4 linked regions of the Homo sapiens genome follow. The protein of the gene in region 3 purifies or fractionates together with the protein of the main gene of each other region. This does not show direct contact. Each region holds a gene or a part of one and is shown on either strand. Other genes may lie near its edges.

Region 1 (7,424 bases), on a different chromosome or scaffold from region 3:
ATCCTGGGTTATCGGGTGGGCCTAATGGAATCTCTTTTTCTGAGAGGAAGACAAGAGAGTAAAAGCTGGAAAAAGGAGACGTGATGAAAGAACAGAGGCTGCAGTGATGTGCTTTGGAGATGGAGGAAGAGGGAGGCGGCATCTAGAAGCAGGAACAGGCAAGGGAATGGATTCTTCCTGAGCCCTAGCAAGAACGCAGCTCTGCTGACACCTTGATTTCAGCCTCACGGAACCCATTTCAGGCTTCTGACCTCTGTTAAATAGTAACTTTGTGTTATCATAAGCTATTAAATTTGTGGTAATTTGTTACAGCAGCAATCAATAAACACTTATCATGAATGACCAAAATTAATTCAAGAAGAGGTTAAACAAAACCCTGAATAGACCAGCAACTTCTAAATAAACAGAAAACCTTTTATTTTTTTTCTTATTTTTAAATAAAATACCCCTTCTATAAAGGCATCAGATGGTCCTCTAGGTGAGTGGCCTTCAAACCTTCAAGAAACAGATCATTCTTATGGTATTTGAATAATTACAGAGCCTAAAGATTCACGGAAGCCAGGCGCAGCAGCTCACGCCTGTAATCCCAGCACTTTGGGAGGCCAAGGCAGGAGGACTGCTTGAGCCTAGGATTTCAAGACCAGCCTGGGCAACATAGTGAGACCCCTGTCTGTATAAAAATAAATAAATATAAAAATCCTGAATATAATATTAGCAATAAATCTACCACTATATACCTGTTATAGTATACTATTATGAATAAGGGAAGTTTATTCCAGGAATCAGTGACAGCTAAACATTAGGAAATCTACAATGAACTTACACTAACAACCGAAAAGAGAAGAAAAATTTGATTATTTCAATTAATACTAAATATATATATATATATATAGAGCACAGTGGCTCATGCCTGTAATCCCAGCACTCTTGGAGGCCAAGGCAGGAGGATCACTTTGAGCTCAGGAGTTTGAGACCAGCCTAGGCAATATAGTGAGACCTCTTTGTCTCTATAAAAAATATGAAAATAGGCTGGGCATGGTGCCTCATGCCTGTAATCCCAGCACTTTGGGAGGCCAAGGCAGGTGGATTACCTGAGGTTGAGACCAGCCTGACCAACAAGGAGAAACCCCAACTCTACTAAAAAAAAAAAAATTCAAAATTAGTCGGGTGTGGTGGCACATGCCTGTAATCCCAGCTACTCGGGAGGCTGAGGCAGGTGAGTTGCTTGAACCCAGGAGGCAGAGGTTGCGGTGAGCCAAGATCGCACAATTGCACTCCAGCCTGGACAACAAGAGTGAAACTCTGTCTCAAAAAAAAAAAAAAAAAAAAAAAGGAACAAGAAAACAAAATTAGCCGGGTGTGGTGGCACATGCCTGTAGTCCCAGCTCTTCAGGAGGCTAAGGTGGGAGAATTGCTTGAGCCAGGGAGGTCGAAGCTGCTTTGAGCCGAGATCAAACCATTGCATTCCAGTCCAGGCGACAGAGAGAGACCCTGTCCCCCCGAAAAGAAAAAAAAAAAACCCTGATAAAATTCAATTTTAATACATGCTTTTAATAATATATTTCAGCAAGTTAAGAACCGTATATGAACATACTTATGACTATTTATCAAGCATCAATAACAAATTCATCATATCCCTAGTCCAGTGAGTCTCCCATTCCCTAGATGAGTACTGATTAGACTAGGGATATGATTGAAATAGAAGACAGAATTTTAACGAGGTGCATTCTTTCTGAATAAATCTGCAGATATAATGCAATGTCAATCAAAATCCTAACACTTTCCAAGTAACAGGGTTCTTTGTTCTTTTAATTGTTTTGTTTTTTGTTTTTTATTGAGATAGGGTCTCACTCTGCTGCCCAGGCTGGAGTGCTGTAGTGCAATCATAGCTCACTGCAGCCTCAAACTGCGGGGCTCAGTCGATCCTGTCACCTCAGCCTCCCAAAGTGCTGGGGCTACAGGTGTGGGCTACTCACCTGTACAATGTGCTCAGCCAACCACACGTTGTTTTAAAAGCTATTTACCAGCCAATAGAGCTACTTCTTTCCTCCTTACTTTTCTTTTTCAGAGTTTTTGTTATATCTTTTCCTGTTTACACTATCAATTGCTTTTAGAATCATTCTATTAAATTTTAAAATAATGGAATACACAGTAGTGGACTAAAACCTAATATATTAATTGAAAATTAATTTTCCTGTGCTACTTTTTGGAAGGAAGTCACTGTGTACAATCCACCTTTAAGGAGTGAGGAGTTATGCTCTGTATCACGAGGACCTTTTGTTTTTTGTTGCTATTGTGAAAGATTTCTTTTAGTATTTTCATATATGTTATTACCAATATAAAGGACTGATATGACTTGTTGAAGAACTTCTATGTAGCAACTTTATTAAACCCCTTTATCAATTCTATTAGCTTTTGTTCATATTTTATTTCTTTGGGTTGTGTGGATTTTTTTTAAGAGATGGGGTCTCACTGTGTTGCCCAGGCTGGTCTCAAAACTCCTGGGTTCCAGTGATCCTCCCACCTCGGCCTTCCAAAGTGTTGGGATTATAGGCATGAGCCACTGTGCCTGGCCCGGTCTGTCAATTTCTACTGTGAGTAATCCCTTTGCCTTTTCTTTCCTAACATTATACATTACATTTCCATTTCCTGTCTTATTACATCAGTCAGGACTTCCAGAAAATTATCAAAAAACAGCAGTGATCAGAGATCTAGTGAATATCCTCGGGTATTTGTCTGTTGACACTCTCAGTTCTTTTGGGAAACTGCGCTACTCCATATGTACAGTCCTTGTGGGACGAGACCAGTCACAGGGCACCTAACCCTAACCCTGTAGGTTCAAAGCTGGGTGCATGGTCCAGGGCCAGCCAAACATCAGACCCTATTTTCCCACCCAGGGCGATTGTTCCAGAGGTGGGCAAGAAACCTAAGCAGGGCCAACCAGATTTTCTCCCAGTTTTTTGTTTGTTAGTTTGGAACCAGAAGAGAGGAGGGGAGGGCCTTACTTTCTGGTTTAACAGACGGGAAAGATAGGAACGAGGGTATCAGAGGCCACCACTGTCACTTGCACAGGAAGAGAAAGGCTGCCGGCAGAGGAGGAAGAGAAACTACGGAAAGAATCCCAAGGGGCGAGGAGAAGGGAGGAGAGGGACAGAGATGGGAAGAGGGACAACAAGAATGATCTGGTTTTGTTTTTTTTTTTTTTTTGAGTGGAGTCTCCCTCTGCCACCAGGCTGGAGTGCAGTGGCGAGATCTCGGCTCACTGCAACCTCTGCCTCCCGGGTTCAAGCAATTCTCCTGCCTCAGCCTCCCTAGTAGCTGGGATTATGGCGCGCGCCACCATGCACAGCTAATTTTCGGTACAGACGGTGTTTCACCATGTTGGCCAGGATGGTCTCGATCTCTTGACCTTGTGATCCGCCCGCCTAGGCCTCCCAAAGTGCTGGGATTACAGGCGTGAGCCACCGCGCCTGGCCTAATGACCTTGTTTTCAAATCCCTGAATCCAAACTTCCTGATTATGTGAGCCAAAAAATTTGTTTTCCATTTTCTCTACTTACATTGGATCATTACAACGGAAGGAATTTTGACTATTAGAGAAATCAATCTTGTCCTGGTAACTGACACTTATTAGGTAACGGCTGGTGCCAGGCTGAGGGCAGGTGGCACTGACTCCGGTCCTCCGCCCAGGCAACCCCAGTCTTCACAGCTGGCGACGAGTGTTCTTTCACGTTTGCAGATGAGGAAGCTGAGGCTCTGGGAGGAAAGCGCGCTGCTCCTGCCCTTCTGGGCCGCAGCCTCTCGTACTCCCACAGCAGGCTTGATGGATAAACTTCCAACACGACCAGCTGGCACAAACTGTGCTACTTGGCAAATGGGAGCATGTTGCTCTATCCTGGTAGATTCTAAGTTCTCTAATGGAACAACTGATGAGAGGAGAGGAGTATGCAACACCCTAACCAGCATCAAAGGGTGTACCCAACTCAATCTGCACAGCAAATGCGCCCAACCCCACACACCCCGCGGGGTGCTAACCGAGTCACGGCTCGAGGCCTCTGGGTCCTTCCACGCCAGGTCATTCAGAACCTGAAACCCCCAGCGGAGGTGGAGAGCCGGGGTGAGTCCTGGCGTCCGAGACGTGGAGGACCCAGCCCCCGGAGCGCGTTCCGTTAGTTTACAGAGCTTTTTCAAACTTTGCCTTCCAAGTGCAGGAGTTCCTTGGTCTTTGCAAGACCCGCAGGCGTCCGCAGTGGTGCAGAGAGAGGTGCAAGGGGCGCGCCCAAGGTCGCAGGCTGCCTGGCTGCGCGCTCAGTCGGGCCCCCGGGCGCCAGGCGCGGGGCGGGCTCTGGGCGGGCGGCCGGGGCGGGGACTGCAGAGCAGGCTGCACTGCGCGGTACCCACTGCCGGCCTGCGCGGTACTCACTGCCGGCCTCCGCGGTACCCACTGCCGGCCTCCGCGCTACCCGGCCGCAGCGCGCGAGTCACATGGAAGCTCCTGAGGAGCCCGCGCCAGTGCGCGGAGGCCCGGAGGCCACCCTTGAGGTCCGTGGGTCGCGCTGCTTGCGGCTGTCCGCCTTCCGAGAAGAGCTGCGGGCGCTCTTGGTCCTGGCTGGCCCCGCGGTGAGTAAGGTGGCCTCAGTGGCAGGCCGGTACCGGCGGGCTGGGGACCTGGTGATTTCTGCCTCCGCGGGTGACTTTGGCGGGCTTTGGGGACCGAGCGAGCTGTCCGCCGGCGGGCTCCGGGGAGCATCGTGCCAGGAGCCGGGCGGGCACCCCAGCTCCTCTGCCTGCGTCCCGGCCGCTTTCCGCTCCGCACCACCCGACTGGGGGCCCCGCGGGGCACTGCGGGAACGGCTGGTACGCGCCCGGGCGCATGTTGGCTCGGAGAGGCCGGCGGCTCCAGCCTCCTGCGCCAGGAGACACCGGAGAGCTGGGACCTTTGCCCCTAACGGGGCTCTACCAGGTCCAGGCTGCATTTGCATCCGGGGGTGCCTTCTCTGGGAGCTGATTCCGGCCAATAAAACGCAAGTTGCCTGAACTTCAAAACACAAGGGAACTTGTTTCTTTGAAAAGTAGCGGTCAAAAGTTCGGGAGCTCTGCGATCTAAATAATCCCGAGGCACGGAGGAGGGGGTGCGTGGTCTGTCGTGGACTCAGAGCTGCGAAATGATTTCTTCAGAATTCAGTCAACCTCTACCGAGGAAACCAGAGGCATCCTGTACCACCCCCTCCCCGCCAGTAATTATGTATGTGAAAGAAAAAAGGGGTTTTAATGTGGTTCTTTGTGGGGTCGAGGTGTTCTTATCTGTGGGATTCTTTTCTTTTTAATCATTAGGTTAGGGCTGTTTCTGCCTTGTCTCCTAAAAATAATGTGGTTTTAAAAACCACAAAAACACAATCCTATCCACGTTCTCCTGCCAGCTTGGGTGGTTTTCAAACCGAGAGGGTAGGACGCGGCACAAGAAGCAACTGGTATGCACTTAAGGCGTGAATAAGCTTTTGACTTTGAGGCCCACATTCTGCACCTGCGCGGGCTGAGGGGGGCCGCTGTGCCTCTGGAGTGGGGGCTCGGTAGTTTGTGGGATATTGTGGCACCCGCTGTGGTGTGCAGGACAGCAAGGGTAATGCCGAGGTCAAAGCCATGGAATAAGATCCATCAGCCATGCTTTCTCACAGACCAGAAAGAACTCATGATTTGGGGCTGGGCGCGGTGGTTCACGCCTGTAATCCCAGCACTTTGGGAGGCTGAGGCAGATGGATCACTTGAGGTCAGGAGTTCGAGACCAGCCTGGCCAATATGGTGAAACTCCGTCTCTACTAAAAATACAAAAATTAGCCAGACGTGGTGGCGGGCGCCTGTAGTGCCAGCTACTCCAGAGGCTGAGGCACGAGAATCGCTTGAACCTGGGAAGTGGAGGTTACAGTGAGCCAGGATGGTGCCACTGCACTCCAGCCTGAACAACAGAGTAAGACTTGGTCTCAAAAAACAAAACAAAACAAAACAAAAACACCTCATGGCTGGGCGTGGTGGCTCACGTCTGTAATCCCAGCACTTTGGGAGGCCAAGGCAGGCGGATCACGAGGTCAAGAGATTGAGACCATCCTGGCCAACCTGGTGAAACCCCGTCTATACTAAAAATACAAAAAATAAAAAATAAAAATTAGCTGGGCATGGTGGCAGGCGCCTGTAATTCCAGCTACTTGGGAGGCTGAGGCAGGAGAACCGCTTGAACCCGGGAGGCGGAGGTTGCAGTGAGCCCAGATCGCGCCATTGCACTCCAGCCTGGGCAAAAAAACACCTCATGATTTGGAATCTCAAGACCTGGGGCTGCGTGCCCTGCTTTGACCTCCGAAAGTAAGTCAGGAAGCAGCTGTGCAGATTGAAACAGCCTCCTAACCTCTTCTGGTCTCTGCATATTCATTTGTAAAATGGAGATAATAATCATGTCTTGGTTCAACACTCCCTCACAGAGCTGCTGTGAGAAGGGGCTTTCTAAGGCTATTATTGTTTTATTATTATTATTATTTTTTGAGACAGGGTCTTGATCTGTCGGCCAGGCTGGAGTGCAGTGGTGTGATCACAGCTCACTGCAGCCTCAACTTCTGGAGTAGCGGAGATTACAGGCACACACCACCATGCCTGGCTAATTTTTGTATTTTGGGTTAGAGATAGGGTCTCCCTGTGTTGCCCATTGCTTGAATTCCTGGGCTAAAGCAATCCTCCTGCCTCGGCCTCCCAAGAGCTGGGATTATAAGCATAAGCCACCTTGCCCAGCCTGTTATTGCTTTAATAGTATAGCAATAATAATAATAATAATAATAATAATAACAGGGCAGGTTTCTGAAATCCAGCCCTCCCAGTAGCCTGATCCCCTTGATGTGGGGGACCTCTCCAGGTCTCCAGGGATGAGCACTAGACTGACATGCTGGGGACCTCACCTTTTCTCTTTGTATGTACATATATGTATACCATTGTGTTTATTACAAATGTCATGCATATTTACTGTAGAAAAAAATAGAAAACCAAGACCAACAATAGGAAAAAACCCTCTGAAATCTCACCGCTGAGAGGTAATTTGGGAGCTTTCCTTCTAGTCCTTTGTGTGTGTGTGTCTCTGCTTTGTGAAAATGTGATTGTAGAGTTTTGCTACCTGCTTAGTCTCTCATGAAGTGTATGTGGACCGGCCTGGGTCTGTCTCCCATCTCTAATCCCATCTGCTATAAAGTTTTCTGTTTACTAAAGGGCATGGGATAAGGAGAGACCACCCCCTTCTTTTCCCATGCTCATTGTCCAATACTTTCTTCTCCAAGTGTCCAACATAACATGAGGAAGATGCCCTGTCTGGCTCTCCTCTCTGTAATTTTCTCTCTCATTTGCCATCTCCCTTCCAGACCTCTCAAGTTAACCCTGACCCTTGAGGTCTCA
Region 2 (4,105 bases), on a different chromosome or scaffold from region 3:
AATGCATTAACAAATCCATTATTTGAGGAAATTTCTATTCAAAGAAAATTGCTTTAAATTGCCAGGTGACAATAGCAAAGACTTGGAACCAACCCAAATGTCCATCAATGATAGACTGGATTAAGAAAATGTGGCACATATACACCATGGAATACTATGCAGCCATAAAAAACGATGAGTTCATGTCCTTTGTAGGGACATGGATGAAGCTGGAAACCATCATTCTCAGCAAACTATCGCAAGAACAAAAAACCAAACACCGCATGTTTTCACTCATAGGTGGGAACTGAACAATGAGAACACTTGGACACAGGAAGGGGAACATCACACATTGGGGCCTGTCGTGGGGTAGGGGGAGGGAGGAGGAATAGCATTAGGAGATATACCTAATGTAAATGACAAGTTAATGGGTGCAACATACCAACATGGTGCATGTATACATATGTAACAAAACTGCATGTTGTGCACATGTACCCTAGAACTTAAAAGTATAACAAAAATAAAAAATAAAAAAAAATTGCCAGGTGAGTCAAATCTGCTTGAATTTCCAAACTTTTACCATCAATTATTGATTGTATTTTGACATGGGGAAGAGAAAAGTCCTGGTAGTAAAGTCACAAGAATTTTCTTTATTATAGCAAATACTTTCACGGCATTTGACAGAACTCAGAACTATTTACAAAGAAAGAAAGAAAAATCAAACAACCAAAAGATACATTTCATATAATAGGAAAATATAAAAATCGAAGCCAAGTGACAGAATGAAAAAGTTAGCTAAGCAATGGATTTGAAAAACTTCGATTCTAACTATCTGACTTGTTGCTAATTGTCCAAACATATAATAATTTAAGATGGTCTTTTGAGACTTCCTAGAAGTAAAAAGGAATTATTGAAAAAATGTTCAAATATTTCATAAATAAATACCAAAAATATTTATTTTCATTGTACTTTCCGACTTGCTTCAGTGAAGGTGTCCTTTTACAACACTCTGTTTCTTGTTTCAAATTCTCATCTGGAGATGTTACTTTCTTCCAGAGTGATACTCCCAGCTTACCACAATATTCCTGATTAAGAAAATGCTAGAGCTGTCCTACCTGAGGAAAAGAAGAGAGAACTGCAGAACAATCTGTAAAGTTCCTAGACAGTTCAATCAAGTTAAGGATGGTCCAACTGAGATATTTTGTTACTCCAGCACTTTTCAAGTGTTATTATGAAATCACAATTCTATCTCAGTGTGAGATTTCTTATATAAGTAGGAAGAATTTCATTTCTGTAAACATTTGCAGGGCCAGCTGTTTCTCTAAATAGATTTGTTTCTCCTTAAGAGAGCTGCTCCAGTGAAAAATCTTTTCTTACATTTCATGTCCAAACCCAGAGAGAAACCCAATGTTTTTCTGTGAAAAGACAGAAATACTCAAGTAATATAAAAGCTTCCTGTAATCAAGGAATTGCCTACCTATTACAAGCATGTAATCACTCATTGCAGATTCCTAAAGAATTAAAAATGTTCTTCAGTTACTCATAGTTCATCAGATGTACTGTTAGCCCTTGCTAATTCACATTCTTCACTGGTTTGACAACTCTGAAGGATGTCCTTGTAGTGGTTCTTCAGATCTTCATAAAATGAAACAGTTTCTTGTGAGTAAGCCAAAGGTAACACCTTTTCATTTAATAACATCTGCACTCGGAATTGTTCTTTAGGAGTCTTAGCATTTTCACAGTGGTAAAGCACAAATATCAGGTTCGAGGCATAAGGTACAATGAGACCACTTCGGAACTTCCGATGCATTTGTTTTTTGTAATTGTACGCTGTTAGGGGTTCCTTGTCTTTGAAGTAGCCCATGAGAGAAAGCAGTGGAAGAAGAGTCTCTGCATGACCAAACTGGAGGATGACTGGAGAAGAAATTGGCTGAGACCTTCAAATAGAAATTAAGAGAAAATAAGGTATATATATTAATGTCATAGAACATAGTATTTACACTTAGGAGTAACTTCCACATCTTTTTTTAGTTTAAATAATCCCATCTATTTTTTTAAATCTTTATATACATTACACAAGCATACGGCTGAAATTCCGTGTGGCAGAGAACTAAACTTTTTATACTGAAAGTTAAGTTCCGAAATTCAGATCACTGTACTGTTGTAAATCCATATAAGTGTGCATACATATTTTCCTTTAAGTTTAAAGAGAGAGAAGTGTCTTATAGATATGGGAACTTGAAACAGATGTGTATTTCAACACTGTATTGCCTTTCTGTGCATAAAACTGAGCAACCTGGCCCTTAGTAAATATTACTCCATGGAGCTCTTTTGAATAAAGTGTTATTATTTTATTTATATCTAGGGAATAAGAACAAGCAATATTCAGTAAATGTCTTACCAAGTCTGAACAGGATTACATGGTAATTCATGTAATCCTTAATGGTTTACAAAACCCAAAAAAGGTTAGTGATGTAACCTATTGTGGCTGAAACAATGTGTCTCTGGTTGGGAGTGGGAGTATAAAGTGCCAGGAATACAAACCACTTTCAACACTGAGCTGAATCAATTCTTTTTCTTGAAGTTTTCTATGATTTTTTTTTTCTGGTAAAGAATTTTTATTAAGAAGCAGTGAATGACTGCTTAGCCTTTTCCCTACCTTTATAGAAAAAATAATATTTTTCTTAAATATAATTTGTAAACCTATTCAAACATGACTGTCTGACTTTTTGCCACCACTCATCAGGTTATCAATTTAGTGCATCTGGATTTTCTGGGAGGATAGAAGCAGCAGTTCTAGACCTTCCTGATTCCCTCTGCCCCCAACACACACAAACACAGCAAGCAGATAGCAAATCCAAAAACCCATGGGAAACATTTACAACATAACTAGGTGGAAAAGTATTCTCTATGAACCACTCCAAGTAGCATCCAACCTCAAGCACTAGATATTATCAGTATCTGTTGAAGAAAGCAGAGAGAAGCCACAGAGCATCTGAGCAATCTGAGAACAAGAGAATCCCAAACAGCCCACAGGTATTCACTGGAAGCGCTGTGTGTGAACTGGATATAGCAGCTGAAATTGGGAAGTATTTAGTCCTCTCCAGGACTTGGTGAGTGCAAGGCAGGCCTACAGTGAGGCCCGGGGCTAGAGAATCCTGGAGCTCCTGTGAACTCTCCAAACACAGGGCTCACACTAGAGAAACTGCTGGGAGTGGAATTTCAGCCAAGCAGGAGAGGGACAGAAGAGATAAAGGAAAAAGTAAGTCTAGATGAAAGTGGGGGGAGGGGAACAGAGCCAGGAAATCTCAGAAAACAACCCATCATACTTCTGAACAGTACACACACCAGAACGGGGGGGCTCTGTGAGATGAGACAAGCAATCTGACACAAACCTTTTTCTAAATGTTCAGGAAAACAATTCATATCAAAATAACTACAGAAAAGCATGTAAGAAAAAATAAGGAGCAGAATAACTTCCATATATAAGAGTACGCTAGAAATATATACTCAAAAAGTACACTGAAACTGTTAACAGTATTTCAAAACAAACTAAAAGACAATTATTCACTACTTTCAGATTAATATTCTCTAAAAGGTGTAAAACTTAAAAGCCATTCATCAACAGGCGCTTACCAAGCCTCTCTTCATAACTGGTATACTTTAATTAGGTCATCTAAAATACCTAAAACCTGTATTTATTTCCAAGAAGCAATCTCTTAGGTCTGAAGTTACCAAGCGGTAGCATTCAGAACACAGCCATATTTAGTTTGACCAGCATAAGTATTTTTAAATTTTACATTACTTATCAGTATTTAAAAATTGAGAGGTTTAAGATTCTTAAAAATCCAGATTTTTGCTCTTCTTAGAAATCTGAAAGATCTGGCAACACAAGTCCATATATACCCGTAAGACCATAATCAGCTAAACAGGAATAAGGTTACCCACCCTGTAGAGAGGGCATATACTTGTTACACAGCACATGTATCATTCCACATTGTCTAACATAGGATGAATTCATTCCTTTGTTACTTGCCTGGCCCCTTTATACATCTGAGTATATTCAAGTCTAAACTAACACTACTGTCACCATCTAAATAATGAAATTTAATAAGGATACAAGTTA
Region 3 (7,036 bases):
TTATCAGTTGTTGCGTCTACTGTCATTCAATGGAATACGCTCTCCATTATGTATAAGATATTTTGTTAAAGATAGAAAAGTATGAACAAAGAAGTAGTCATATCAAGTTCACCAATTGTTATTTTAAGGCTTACTTAAAACAGGATAATTCACTACTTGGGGGAAAAGGCTGATTTCCAAAACTGCAGCTATGTAGTGATTTACTCATTCCATAAGCCTATGATCTTATCTGCTCGGATTTACATTTGGAGCAGTAAAACCTCTGGCAGCTGCTCTTAGCTGTCTGCATGAAGAGGAGACAGGAGATAAGAACATTCCTGATTTTATTGCTTTCTAGAACATTTGAAGTTGGGGTGGGGGTGGGAAAGATGAACCTATTGTGACCATAAACGTCCATCGAGTCTGATACCAAAGAAGTAAACCAGTCCTCTTAGAAGATGTGGTAAATCTCCCAGGCCACTGGCCTCCATTTGTCAAAACCTGTTAAGGCTTAAAAAAGAGGAGAGCTGCTGCCTCTTCTTCAACAGAAAAGCAATCACTCCAATGTTAAGATAGTTTAGGGCTTTGGGATAATTATTGCCAGGTAGAAAACTTTCAACTATTCTTATTGTGAGCTCCCCAGATGACCTTACCCTACTCCCAAAGAGCTCCATAGGACCCTGGGCAACCTTGGAGCAAGCTTCAGCCCAATCCAACTAACAATTCCAGCCGGGATGCAGTGTGGGACAGCATTTAGGGGAGGGTGTTGCCACAGACTCTGCCCAGGCACACCTGCCAATAGCATCACCACTGGGAAAGTGGCAGCTCTTAGTACGACTTAATTGGAGACCATTTGGGATTCCTGTCAGGTGAGGGTCTCTAGGAAGACTGTTAAAACCCCTGAGTTTTGATGACTTCCAGGATGTGTTGAAGGGTCTGTATTAGCTCATTCTCAAGACCTAAAATTTTCTTACGCTTTCTTCTTTGGACATTAGTTCTTCAGTTAAAAGCTGCCAAAATCATGACAGAATCTGGTGGGGGAGAGGGGAGGAATTTGTATTGCCTAATAAATAATCTCATAGAAGGTCATAATTCCATATTAGCCACTAAATATCTGAAATGTATAAAGCATGCAAAGTTGGATCCAAGATGTGGATGAAAAACAGCTCGGTGACATTTCTTAAGAATTATTCATTTTCTTTTTTAATGTGAAAGTAGAGCAAGAACATTCTCCTAAATCCCAGACTTAGAGAGCTGAACATTGCCTGGAGGCCATAAAGAATTACATTGACAAAGCCATTTTTCTTTAGTTTTTAAATTACACATTAAAAGTTCCCCCAAAGAATTTTGGAAGAGATCTCAAGCTTTCAGATTCATTAGACATAGAGGGACCTCTGGAAACTCCCATCATGGTCTTCATCTGTTGTCCTAGGAAGACACTGAAATCATGCTAGGGAGAAACGAAGCTCCTCAATTTTGGAAAAATGTTCATTATTGTTTCAGTCTTCGTCTGTAATGCACCCTGGACCCAGCTATGCTCATTGGCACAAAGTTTTAAATTGTTCTGCTCTTGTGAATAGCTGCTTCCCCCCAACACACACACACACACACACACACACACACACACACACACACACACACACACACACCAGCCACTGCTGTAGTGTTTTATCTCCTTGAGGACTACTGTTACCTGCCTAACTCATTTTAACCCTGAGTTCTTTGAACCTCTTTGTCCTTTCATCTTCCTTAAAATTGCTATGACTTATACCTCTTAAATCATCCCCGCAAAACCACTCATCCCCTAAAAATAAAAATCAGTCCAGTGGCAAAATTTGTTGAAAGGCAAGGAGAAACCATTGTGTCTTGGTTTATGGGAATAATGCTGGGCAGAGAAATCAATATTCTTTGAAGGTTGTCCTCCTACCATGGCAAAGTGGAGCTCTCCAAAGAGGTCTTTGGGGTTGGACATAAACTCAAAGCAGTGCACATCTTATGTGCTATTAGCTCTTTTCTGGAATGATAATGCTGACACTCCTGTTATTTTCCTTTTAGGCAGGTTTGGTCAACATTTCCCATCTCAAATATATTTTCTCTGTTGACAGAGACCAGATACTGCTACACTCAGCACACAATGGAAGTCACAGGAAACAGTATCTCAGTCACCAAACGCTGTGTCCCACTGGAAGAGTGCTTATCCACTGGCTGCAGAGACTCCGAGCATGAAGGCCACAAGGTCTGGGCAACAGAGCAAGTGACCAGTACTACATAGCCAGCTGCCTTCTCTTCAGACATCTGCCAGTACTCATGAGCAGATTCTTACTCCCCCGTGAAGGCTGTCTTTTGATTGTCTTTATGCTCTATGAAAAGACGCTTCCTTTCCTGTTTACTCTAAAAGAATACACATTTATACCAGAGCATAGGACAACTGATATAAATTGTGTAAACACACATGAAGAGGGTGTTCAGTGTTATTGTAATAACTTTCTTCACTCAGAGGAAAGTAATAAAGCTACCAGAAAAAAGAGGAGCAAGAGACCAGTTATGTCCATCACAGTGAAGCTTTGCAGATGTACCCAGTTCATTCATCACAGGAGGACCGACGCAATTCAGCTTTGATAACTTTCTGTAAAGTAGGGCTCATGTTGTGACTGGGATGTTAGTTTGGGGAGGGTCTCCATTGGCTCTTGAGTCATTTGATAGGTGATGGAGACCCATCTTGTGTGTTCGCTTAAGCTTCACCTGGTACCTGTAGAAGCCTGTATACGGAAACACATGGTGCCTATGTACAGAAGCACTCAGTGTAAAATGAGCTTGGGAGGCAGCCTTGAAGGGGCATATGGACAATCACAGAAAGGCAGCCTTGCCCTCTATACGTGTGTCTATACATGTCTATATGCTGTCTATACGTGTGACCTTAACATAGCATACTTTGGCCTTTATTTAGCAGCTGAACACTTCTGCAGGTGGCCTTCCTGGTGGTTTGGGCAATGTCCATTCTCAATACCTGGGAACAGCACTGTTTCTTAAGAAGGCAGACACCTAATTTTCAAGCAACCTCTTGAATACACTAATAATTAAAATTTTAAATATAATCTGCCTATTCTGCTCCTGGTTCAAAATGAGTAAAACCAAAGGCTTTCCCTGACCTCTCCAGCAAATTGGACTTGATTCTGAGGAGTTACTGTGGCCTCTTTACCAAGGAGAAAGTTAAGGATTAGAGAAATTGGGTCATATGCTCGGTCACACAGCTGGTAAGTGACAGGCACAGAATTCCAACTCACCTCTGGTTTGGAGTCTACCTCCGCAACATTATACTGACTTCCTGGCACGTGTCACTGTGACTAAAGACTCAAATCCCTGCAGGAAAATGACTGTATAGAATGTTATTAATAACCATCCTATGACTAGGAATCACCTGGGAATCTTGTTAAAATGTAGTCCTAATTCTTTGTCTGGGGCAAGGTTTGAGATTCTGCACTTGTAACAAACTCCCAGCTGATGTTGGAGCTGCTGGTCTGTACTTTGTGTAGCCATGCCCCAAGAAAGTTTTTGTCACTAACTCTGTGGGTTTATTTCTTTCTAATGATCCACGAGTAAGGTGGTGTAAAGCAGGAGTAACTGCATGAATGAAAACCCTTCAAACATTAACTCACCCAATGAGAATGGAGACACTTATGCAAACAGTTCTGTGAAAGTCAGTACTCAAGTTTAAACCACCCGGGTTGTTGCCACTTGACTCTCACTTGAAAACTTGGCAAACGAAGGCTTACCCTCTCTTCCTCAAGTAGTCAGAAAGAGCCTCATGGAAAAACACGGACGAGTTTCTTTATTCCCATTTTAAGGGCGAAAGAACTGAGGCCCAGGAAGGCTATACACCTTTGTAAGAATCGTATGGGTGGAGGGTGTCAAAAACAAAACCTAGCTCTCTTGAAGTTTGGCCTGGGGAGTTTTCATGTTGACCAGATTGCTTCTAGAAGAAATATTATCCCCAGCCTTCCTGAACGTAGAGTTGGCATCTCCTTTATAGATTAGGTAATTTTTACTTGCATCTTGCCATGTGGGCGACAGTGCCTTCAAAAACCCTGCCTCCTTCCAAGACATGCTGGCTTCTCATTATCTTTTTTTCTTCCTTTCTTTCAGGTCTGCACTTCTTGTTGTGAAGGAAATATCTGTAACTTGCCACTGCCCCGAAATGAAACTGATGCCACATTTGCCACGACGTCACCTATAAATCAGACAAATGGGCACCCACGCTGTATGTCAGTGATAGTGTCCTGCTTGTGGTTGTGGTTAGGGCTCATGTTATAGTGGCTCAGTGGCTCCATGTGTTAATAGCGATCCATGGGGATCTCGATGGTCCACAGACCTGCATGAGTCATTGGCCTGACAGTAATTACACATGTGAGACACAACACTCTTGGAGGTCATCACAGCCAAGCATTGCCACTTACCATGAGGAATAAATGTTGCTTCATTGTAGCCATTTTGAGTCTAACCGAGACTCATCAAAGCCTTCTGTCAGTACAGCCCAAGTTCCATACCATAAACGTTTGTTTTCATTCCAAGAAGTAGTTCTGCATTTATCGAGATCTGGGGTTCTTAATTTGGAAGAATACATGCATGAGATGCAGTAGGTCCTGAGACTGTAAGATATTAGGAGTATGTTATAGGGGCATGTATAGATGTGGGCTTTTCAGGAGAAAAGTAACCATTGGTTTAAATATAATCATGAGTTCATTTGTAGCTTTAGAATTTTAAAACATTGACTCCAAACTGAATGGACTATTTCCTTGGAAATTCTGACTGAGTCCCTGGAAGAGTAGTAATTCCAACAATTCCAGCCATTTGTTCAATTAATTTTCCCAACATTCTTCTCCCAGTGCTGGGAATCACATTTCCTCTGTTCTGTGCAGAAGACAAAAAGGCAATCATAAAAGTTTGTTATATTTGTGGGGGTGCCTGGAGGAGGATTTTCCTCAACTTAATGGAGCCACTGTCCATAAAGTGGCTGTTATCCCTTCATATAATTGGTGAGATCAGCCTTCTCCTTGACTTGGCACCTAATTATGCTTCATGAGATCCTAGATTCCACCTGAGTCAATTGTGTCCAGAGCCCCAAACCAGGATGGAGTTGTTTTCCCCAGATATGGGGTTCTATTCAGCCATAGATAATCTAGACAGAGGATTTCAGAATGAAAGGAAAAATGTGTGGAGATTAGTCCTAGTTCATTCTGAGGGCCGACTAAGTGGCTCAGCCAGCTTCTTACTCCATCTGCAGTTCATACTGCCAAAGAGCTCCCACTTCCAAATCCCCAGTGACTTTATGGAGAAGATTCTGCATTAAATTGTCTTTCGAATGATGGGGAAGCAAGGCATAATATGCGATGATGAGGAGAAAGTAGACCAGTGAGGTGATTGCAAGACTAACAAGGAGACTCAATGGGAAGTTTTTCTTTCTTTTAGATATTGCTTTTGAAGTAGATGGTAAAATTTTTGTCATCCTTCTTGTATTTTTTGTACCCCAAGTTACAATTTTTCTTCTTCCTTGTAAATAATTTAAACAGTATTTATTTTTGTAAGGCATAACTAGAAACTAAAATATATTCTAAAAAATTCATTATTCTGAACAAAGTGATCAAATTAGAATACATATTTTTCAACAGTGGTAGAGCTTTTAATATATGTTTATTGAAAGTTATCTATAATACTTGCACCAGTGTTGAAAAAAGTTAACATGTAGGCAAGAGCAATATGTTTGTCTCAAGGATTTTTCCATGGTTTCCTCAGTGATGGTGTCCTGGAATTATTCAGGTGGTGACCATCACTGGTCTAAGTTTGTGTGCAGGGTTTTCAGATGTGTTTTTGTGAAACTTGGTAGAACCATGGCTAATAAAGAGGACAGTGTTGTCAGGGTCCATCTGCCCTCCATAGAAAAATGTCTCTGGCTCATAAAATGAGACTCCCTCAGGGACTAAATATGAACTGACAGCAGTAACTCTGATACAGAATAATCTAAATTGCATCAAATGGCCTTAATTCAGAGTTTGTTAGGCTTATCAGTATGTTGCTTTTAATTGGGGTGGGAAAGTAGAGGGAGAGAAAGCAAGACATTTATTAAGCACCTCGTATGTGCCAGGCACTATGCTAAGCACTTTACATAAGTTAGGATTAATCCCTGCAAGAATCCTATAAAGAATGTTACTAGCATTTACACTTCCCAAATGAAGGTACCAAAGCTCAAACGCAATGTTGTGAAGCTGTTTCCTTCAGATTTAGGTTATGTGGGATGATGTGGGATTGAAGAGGAAAGAAAGGTGGGATTATCCCCCTAGGAAGACTTTCAGGCCTGACTTCATAGGAATTCATCCATCTTATCATGTGGAGTTTATCTCACCCTGCTGTTGCAGGATGCTATTTGCATGTGTCCCCAGGTGATGTTTTTTCTTTGGGGAGTAGGGGTTTGGCTTCCTCATTCATCCCTCTTGCTAAAAGAGGAGATAGTTGATGTTGCATCTAAAGATGCTATAAGACAATGAAAGTTTGATGTTGTACATACCTACAAGTACCATTTTTGTGCATGATTACACTCCACTGACATCTTCCAAGTACTGCATGTGATTGAATAAGAAACAAGAAAGTGACCACACCAAAGCCTCCCTGGCTGGTGTAGAGGGATCAGGTCCACAGTGGTGCAGATTCAACCACCACCCAGGGAGTGCTTGCAGACTCTGCATAGATGTTGCTGCATGTGTCCCATGTGCCTGTCAGAATGGCAGTGTTTAATTCTCTTGAAAGAAAGTTATTTGCTCACTATCCCCAGCCTCAAGGAGCCAAGGAAGAGTCATTCACATGGAAGGTCCGGGACTGGTCAGCCACTCTGACTTTTCTACCACATTAAATTCTCCATTACATCTCAATATTGGTAATGGCTTAAGTGTAAAGAGCCATGATGTGTATATTAAGCTATGTGCCACATATTTATTTTTAGACTCTCCACAGCATTCATGTCAATATGGGATTAATGCCTAAACTTTGTAAATATTGTACAGTTTGT
Region 4 (7,036 bases), on a different chromosome or scaffold from region 3:
ACAGACATAGGGTACACAGAAAGAGGGGAAGCTTTGGAGAGGAAACTGATTAATTTCATTATGGACATCTTCAGTTACAGATGCCTATGAGAAATACCCAGGAAATAAATCAAGAAGGTATCCCCTCCAAACCTGGAAGGTTGTAGGGATTGAATGAATTATTAGTAGGGCCACCAAATTTAGCAAATACAAGTACAGGATGCCGAGATGAACTTGAGACAAATAGCTCTATCTGCCATATTTTTTGTAATTTACTGAAAAAAGCAGAATATAGGACATTTGGGGTGTTCTAAGAAACCCAATACAGGAGGCAGGACAAAAATGTTAAATATAGGACACGCCCTATATGCACAAAAAGCCTGGCAATCCTACTTCTTAGGGTGTTTCCATCATGAAATTCTATCCATAACTATAAGCAGTACTTTCAGCTAGTGCTAGTAGATCTAATTAACCAGATCACATCAATTAAATTAACCAGAGTGTTTGCTGGGAAATTCCTATGTCCTATACTGTGTTACTTGAAAATAAAATTCTTAAAAAAAAAAAAAGCCATCCTCCTAAAATCTGTACCCATGTATAGCTAAAAACTAAAGTCCTAAGAATAAATGAAACCTGAATTACCAAAAACAAAAATAGAATCAAGAGAAATGGAAGGATCTCAGTGTTGCCCAATATTTTTACAAGAGTTTATTTAGAAGAAAGAGGTTTAAAAAAAAAAAAAGGTATGTTTTAGGTGGTGGTAGTAGGGACATACATGGCATTAGGAAAACCCTGGAGAATACTTAGAAGGGGCTGGCTGAGCACGGTGGCTCCAGCACTCTGGGAGGCCGAGGTGGGCGGATCATGAGGTCAGGAGATCAAGACCATCCTGGCTAACATGGTGAAACCCCATCTCTACTAAAAATACAAAAATTTAGCGGGCATGGTGGCATGCTCCTGCAATCCCAGCTACTCGGGAGGCTGAGGAAGGAGAATCACTTGAATCCGGGAGGCAGAGGTTGCAGTGAGCTGAGATTGCACCACTGCACTCCAGCCTGGGCGACAGAGTGAGACTCTGTCTCAAAAAAAAAAAAAAAATTAGAAGGGGCTGAAGAAAAGGCAGTAAAAGAAGAAAACCAAAAGCTAGGAGAGTTAAATGTGAAGAAAACTAAACAAAAGGAAAAACTTCAAGTACAATAAGATCAGATGATAAACTAATGCTTTTACTCCTCATTTCCCTCTCTTTAACACTAATTCATCATAATCTCCACTACTGTGCTCCTCAACATTGCCCACCAACTCTCACAAACAGAGAATAAACAGGTTCTTTTGCACTCCAACCAGGTTGGTGACTCACATTTTTCAGAGGACAGTGCTGACGTGCATACCATTCTTGAGAATAAAAGCAGAGTAAGACTCCATTGCCCAAGAAAAGAGAAGTCCACATCAGAACATTCCAAATCGGCTTTTTCCGACTATCATTGACAATGAAGTTGAAAGCCACTAAAAATAGGAAGGCAACAAAGAAATATACAGTTATCAGAGGTCAGAAGTTCGAGACCAGCCTGGCCAACATGGTGAAACCCCATCTCTATTAAAAATACAAAAATTAGCCAGGCGTGGTGGTGTGTGCCTGTAATCCCAGCCACTCGGGAGGCTGAGGCAGGAGAATCACTTGAAGCAGGGAGGCAGAGGTTGCAGTGAGCTGAGATCATACCACTGCTCTCCAGCCTGGGTCACAGGAGTGAAACTCTGTCTCAAAAAAAAAAAAAAAAAAAAAAAAAAAAAAAAAAAAAAAGAAAGAAATATACAGGTATCAAAACATAATTTATCAGAAGATGAGGGACCTCAGGTATCTGCTGTTATTTAATAATCACAGTGAGCAACAACTGTTTATATATTTTTTTATTCTGGTCACTGTTTCTATAAAGAAAAATAAAGCTTCAGTGTTAAAATCAGTAACTTACAAGAAATCAGTGTTTTCAGAACATGTGTATATATATTTCATGGAATTAGAATATTCATATTCCAACTTTTCCCTCTCTACTCACTCAAAAACTTGTCAGTTTTCTAGGGGGTGCATACCGACAATGTTTACGAATGGGAAAGCTGTTTATATAGATAACTTTTATGACCTATCAAATCAGTGTTATCAATGGTCTTCATGAGGTTACCTAGTTCATTTCCCTACTTCAAAGTGTAAATATCTTGAGACAGAGCTGTGTATAATTATTCAAAGTCAATATTCTGACCATCTGATAAAGAAGTACTACCTTAAAATGTTACTACTACTATCTAGTTCTCCTACATTGATTTTATAGTTTCCTTTCTATCTGGTTTTCTTTTTTAGCATAGTACCCAGTACTCACAGCATACCAAGATACTTACTTCCAAAGAACATGAAGAGCACGAAGAGCACGGGATAGAAAAAGCTCAAGCAAACAGCCAAGGCATATTCGTGTACTACAGCAGATACAGCAAAGACAGCTAACATGGCAGCAGATTTGAATCTCTTGGAGAAAAACTAAAGAAAAAGGAAAACACTACAAAGTAATTTTTAAAAATTTAAAGCAAGCATGGATTATATAGGATGTAAAATTATATGCCAAAGGCACCTATTGTATTTGTACTTAATTTTCTAAGTCTACTCCTTGGATTAATCCAAGTCTATTAAAATAACTACAAATCATATACACTTACAAACTCTTATTATTGTTCAAATATCTGAGTCTATTTTCAAAAATATCAATAACTTATGTTTGTAAGTTATTACAACTGACAAAACATAGTTTTCCTATATAAATGAAACATATTGAATTTCAGTCTTTAGAGTAACACTGTATGGTAGATGGGGCAACTGTCCTCTCCATTTTTACACATAACAAAACTAAGATTTCAGAAGGAGAAAAGGGACTTGCCTTATCCGTATGTGAAACTACACTTGAATGACAGAATTAGCACTCAAATATTAATACAATGCTATTTCCACCATAAGATGCTGTCACTAAGCCAAATGGTGCCCTCACTTAATAAAAACTGTAATCTAGATACCTGTTTATCAACCAGGAGATTCAAGATTACATCTCATCAGTCTAAGTATATTCTGCTCTAAAGAATGTCTCAAAGCCAGGTGTCACTGATTGGAGAGATACAAAATCCACACAAAAGTGTTTCTCACAGAAAAGTGTTTCTCACCCGGGCACGGTGGCTCATGCTTGTAATCCCAGCACTTTGGGAGGCTGAGGCGGGCGGATCACCTAAGGTCGGGAGTTCAAGATGAGCCTGACCAACATGGAGAAACACCATCTCTACTAAAAATAGAAAATTAGCTGGGCGTGGTGGTGCATGCCTGTAATCCCAGCTACTTGGGAGGCTGAGGCAGGAGAATCGCTTGAACCCGGGAGGAGGAGGTTGCAGTGAGCCGACAACATGCCACTGCACTCCAGCCTGGGCAACAAGAGCGAAACTCTCTCAAAAAAAAAAAAAAAAAGTGTTTCTCTACCTTTAACCATGAAAAACGAATGAAAAAGACCAAAGGGAGATTATTTGTTGGCAACAAGACTCATAAGAAACTATCCATTATTGGTGGATCATTTCAACTCCAACAACCTCCATGCATTCTTACTTTGTTATGTAAGATAAAATTCAGAGCAAAAGACACAGTATTAGACCTACTAGTGTACACACAGTGGTTTCTAAGCAGTACCATTCAAAGCAGGTTTCTAGATGTAAATTTCTCAAAAGAAAACTGAAAAGATACTATCACCCTTTCCTCATGAGCAATTAAATATAACTTCTTCCAGCTGTATAATACTCATACTTTCTGAAAAAGAATCTCCATTTCATAAATAATATCAACTTAAACCTTGCTACTTACCCAGAGAAAGTCCTTGTAAGCATAGTAATATAGCCAGTCATGGACCACCACATTCCAGGTTCTATAATAGTTGGAGTATGACGTGGAGTTCCACCAATCCTGAGGGAAAAAGTAAAGGTATAAAACTACACACACACACACACACACACACACACACACACACACACACACACACACACACATCCCACCCGAAAGCAAACCCCCCTGACTTCCCAAAGAACATATGTAACAGAAAAATCAAATTATACTGTGATAAACTGTTGGTTCATACACTGGTGACAGAAAAATCTTCAAAGGCATTTTGGTTATTAGTGTTGAATATGACATGAATTCTCATACTATATATGATTTAGTTCCTAGGTTCATACGGAACACATAGAATCATTTAAATCTAATGTTCATCTAAACAGCAATCAGTAAGCCCCACCCCCCTTACCCTACTAGAATGTCATGAGAAAATTCTATGGTCATGAAGACCAGAGAGAGTGCTAACACTAGAGAGCTGTTTGGTGGTTACCATAAATGGCAAAATTATCCAGGGTGAGATGGTGGCTACCTCAAAGTCCTGGTATCCCTATATATGCTTCTTGCTCCCAATATTAAGATCAGATGAATGAAATCAGGTATCTAAAATCTGCAATCCACACTTAAAGTTTCTTTGAGAAAAAAGGTGGTAGACTTGGAGTGTTGCCAAAAACAACTCAAAGAGAGCTTTAGGTAGGGTTAAAGAATGCTATGAGCCATTCTGACTCTAATTCTATAGCTTAATTCCAACTTTAGAAGCATAAGGATACTATCTGAAGCAAAATTAACACCTTTCAAAACTAAAGAGGGAAAAGTTATTTCCCTCATGAACTGCTCAATTGTCTTAAATGGAATAATTTGCTGAGGTCATTCCTACAGAACTAGACGGTCCATTTCAAATGAATGAACACTCAGGGAAGTCTCATGGTGTGCTCTGAACAAACAGTTTCCTACTGGAATCACCAATATATCCTTGCAGGATCCAGCAGAAACCATGTGCTTATGTTAAGGGAGCAGATATTAGAGACAGAAGAAAACACAAGGTTATGCTAGTTATATCTGTAACCGAATTTCAGAAAATACTGGCAAAACTTGTAGAAAAGAAAATTATTTCACAATGTTTGTGTGAAAGGCTGGTGACATTAGCCAACAATGTCAAAATACTAATAATGAAGAAGTTAATAAAATGTAAAAAGAAAGCTAAGTCTAAGTATATACTACCTTATAGAACATCCTGTCACCAAAGCGTAACATCTCAGCAAAGGCATTGAGCCAGCAGTGCAAAAAGGCAAAAAAAGTAAGGAAGAGAATCAGCACACCTAAAAATAAGATTAACAATATTAACAGTCTTTCCAAATAGCTCACATACCAAGCAACTAATTATATCACATCATTTTATTTAGCTGGGATTATTTTGTAAAATATAAGTTATTATTCCAGTTTACCCATTCCAGAGATGATATACTTTTGGAGTTAATTATCTTAATTTTAAAACAGTAACTTCCTTCAAAGTGGGTTCAACAAATGACATTACCCAGTCTGGTTTTTTTTTTTCTTTTTTGAGACAGAGTCCTGCTCTGTCACCCAGGCTGGAGTGCAGTGGCGCGATCTCGGCTCACTGCAACCTCTGCCTCCAGGGTTCAAGCAATTCTCCTGCCTCAGCCTCCCAAGTAGCTGGAACTACAGGCATGTACCACCACATCTGGCTAATTTTTTGTATTTTTAGTAGAGACCGGGTTTCACCATGTTGGCCAGGCAGGTCTCAATCTCCTGACCTTGTGATCTGCCCACCTCAGCCTCCCGAAGTGCTAGGATTACAGGCGTGAGCCATCGCGCCCAGCCTACCCAGTCTGTTTTTAAGAAATGCCTAAATATATGGCTTAACTTAGTACCCAAGGTCCTTTAAAAATCTGGCCCCCATACCCCCCTCTTAAACAATTGTTTAAAACTGGGAGAGATTTTGCCCCCTCTCCCCCACAGGACATTTGAAATTCTAGAGACTTTTTGTTTTTAAAAGACAGGGTTTCACTATGTTGCCCAGGCTGAACTTCAACTCCTGGGGCTCAAGTGATCCTCCCACCTCAGCCTCCAGAATAGCTGGGACTACCGGTGCAAGCTACTGCACCAGTGCTGTGACAATTGGAGGAGAGGGAGTGGTGCCACTGGTATCTAGTTGTTAGAGGCCAGGATGCTGCTGAACAGTTTATGCTACAATGCAGAAGAATGCCACTCCAAACAAAGAATTAACCAGTCCAAAATGTTAATAGTGACATGGTTAACATAGTGACATGGATAACATTCTAAACATATCTCCAGTGATTCTACCCTCTAAGTGTTGTAAACATTATCCACAACTGGGTTTATGCCATTCCAGAATGCTCCATGCCCTTGCATCCATCCCACTACCTAGAATGACCTTTCCACCAATTCTCTGCCAGGCAAATACCTACCTATTTTTCAATACCCAATATTAAATGTTATCTCTAATGTGAAACAAAGGCCATAAGCATTTTGTTTATCCTACTTATGTAGTACATATTACAATATATTGTAAAATATCCATTTATATGTCCATCTCTTTCACTCATTTATTGAAAAATATATATTTATAGAGCATCAACTATGTACCAGACAATATGAGAGAGACTGTGATTGGCTATAAAACACAATCCTTGAACTCAATAACTTTGCAGCTAGTGAGGAAGACACTCAAGTATGTAACACATATTCTATTTTAGGGACAGATACAGAGTTCATTCAAATAAGTCCTGGGGCTGGTGAGGGAGGGTTACTGGAAGAGGAATGCAAGAGAAGAAAAGAAAGGGAAGGTGATGACAGAAAACATTACCAACATTCAATGAGTAAAGAAAAGAGGAAAAGTAAGGGAAACTATAAAAGCTCCCAGACTGTAAAGATAATACATCTCTTGTTCACTTCTGAGTCCTCTGCACCTGGCATAGTACTAGGTACTCATATATCTCTATAATAGACAAAAAAATGCAATAAATATATTTAAGAAATCAAGGTATGGTCGGAAAGACAGGAGGAAAATAAGAAATAGTGGCAAAAGGCCAAGCATGGTGGCTCAAGCCTGTAACCCCAGCACTTTGAGAGGCTGAGACAGGAGGATAACTTGAGCCCAGGAGTTTGAGAATG

The links.
Region 1: the proteins of LYPD6 (region 3) and SLC47A1 purify together in Homo sapiens (affinity purification with mass spectrometry; 3 studies listed by BioGRID and IntAct, with this or other methods). This does not show direct contact.
Region 2: the proteins of LYPD6 (region 3) and MINPP1 purify together in Homo sapiens (affinity purification with mass spectrometry; 3 studies listed by BioGRID and IntAct, with this or other methods). This does not show direct contact.
Region 4: the proteins of LYPD6 (region 3) and SOAT1 purify together in Homo sapiens (affinity purification with mass spectrometry; 3 studies listed by BioGRID and IntAct, with this or other methods). This does not show direct contact.

The regions. Positions count from the first base shown.
Region 1 is NC_000017.11:19,529,456-19,536,879, forward strand, and holds the start of SLC47A1 (multidrug and toxin extrusion protein 1), read left to right. Parts: upstream 1-4,398; 5' UTR 4,399-4,484; coding exon 4,485-4,619; intron 4,620-7,424.
Region 2 is NC_000010.11:87,549,893-87,553,997, reverse strand, and holds the end of MINPP1 (multiple inositol polyphosphate phosphatase 1 isoform 1 precursor), read right to left. Parts: intron 1,917-4,105; coding exon 1,520-1,916; 3' UTR 537-1,519; downstream 1-536. UniProt on the Homo sapiens protein: Multiple inositol polyphosphate phosphatase that hydrolyzes 1D-myo-inositol 1,3,4,5,6-pentakisphosphate (InsP5[2OH]) and 1D-myo-inositol hexakisphosphate (InsP6) to a range of less phosphorylated inositol phosphates.
Region 3 is NC_000002.12:149,466,561-149,473,596, forward strand, and holds part of LYPD6 (ly6/PLAUR domain-containing protein 6 precursor), read left to right. Parts: intron 1-2,084; coding exon 2,085-2,215; intron 2,216-4,122; coding exon 4,123-4,290; 3' UTR 4,291-7,036.
Region 4 is NC_000001.11:179,345,763-179,352,798, reverse strand, and holds part of SOAT1 (sterol O-acyltransferase 1), read right to left. Parts: intron 5,200-7,036; coding exon 5,102-5,199; intron 3,956-5,101; coding exon 3,857-3,955; intron 2,504-3,856; coding exon 2,368-2,503; intron 1,483-2,367; coding exon 1,337-1,482; intron 1-1,336.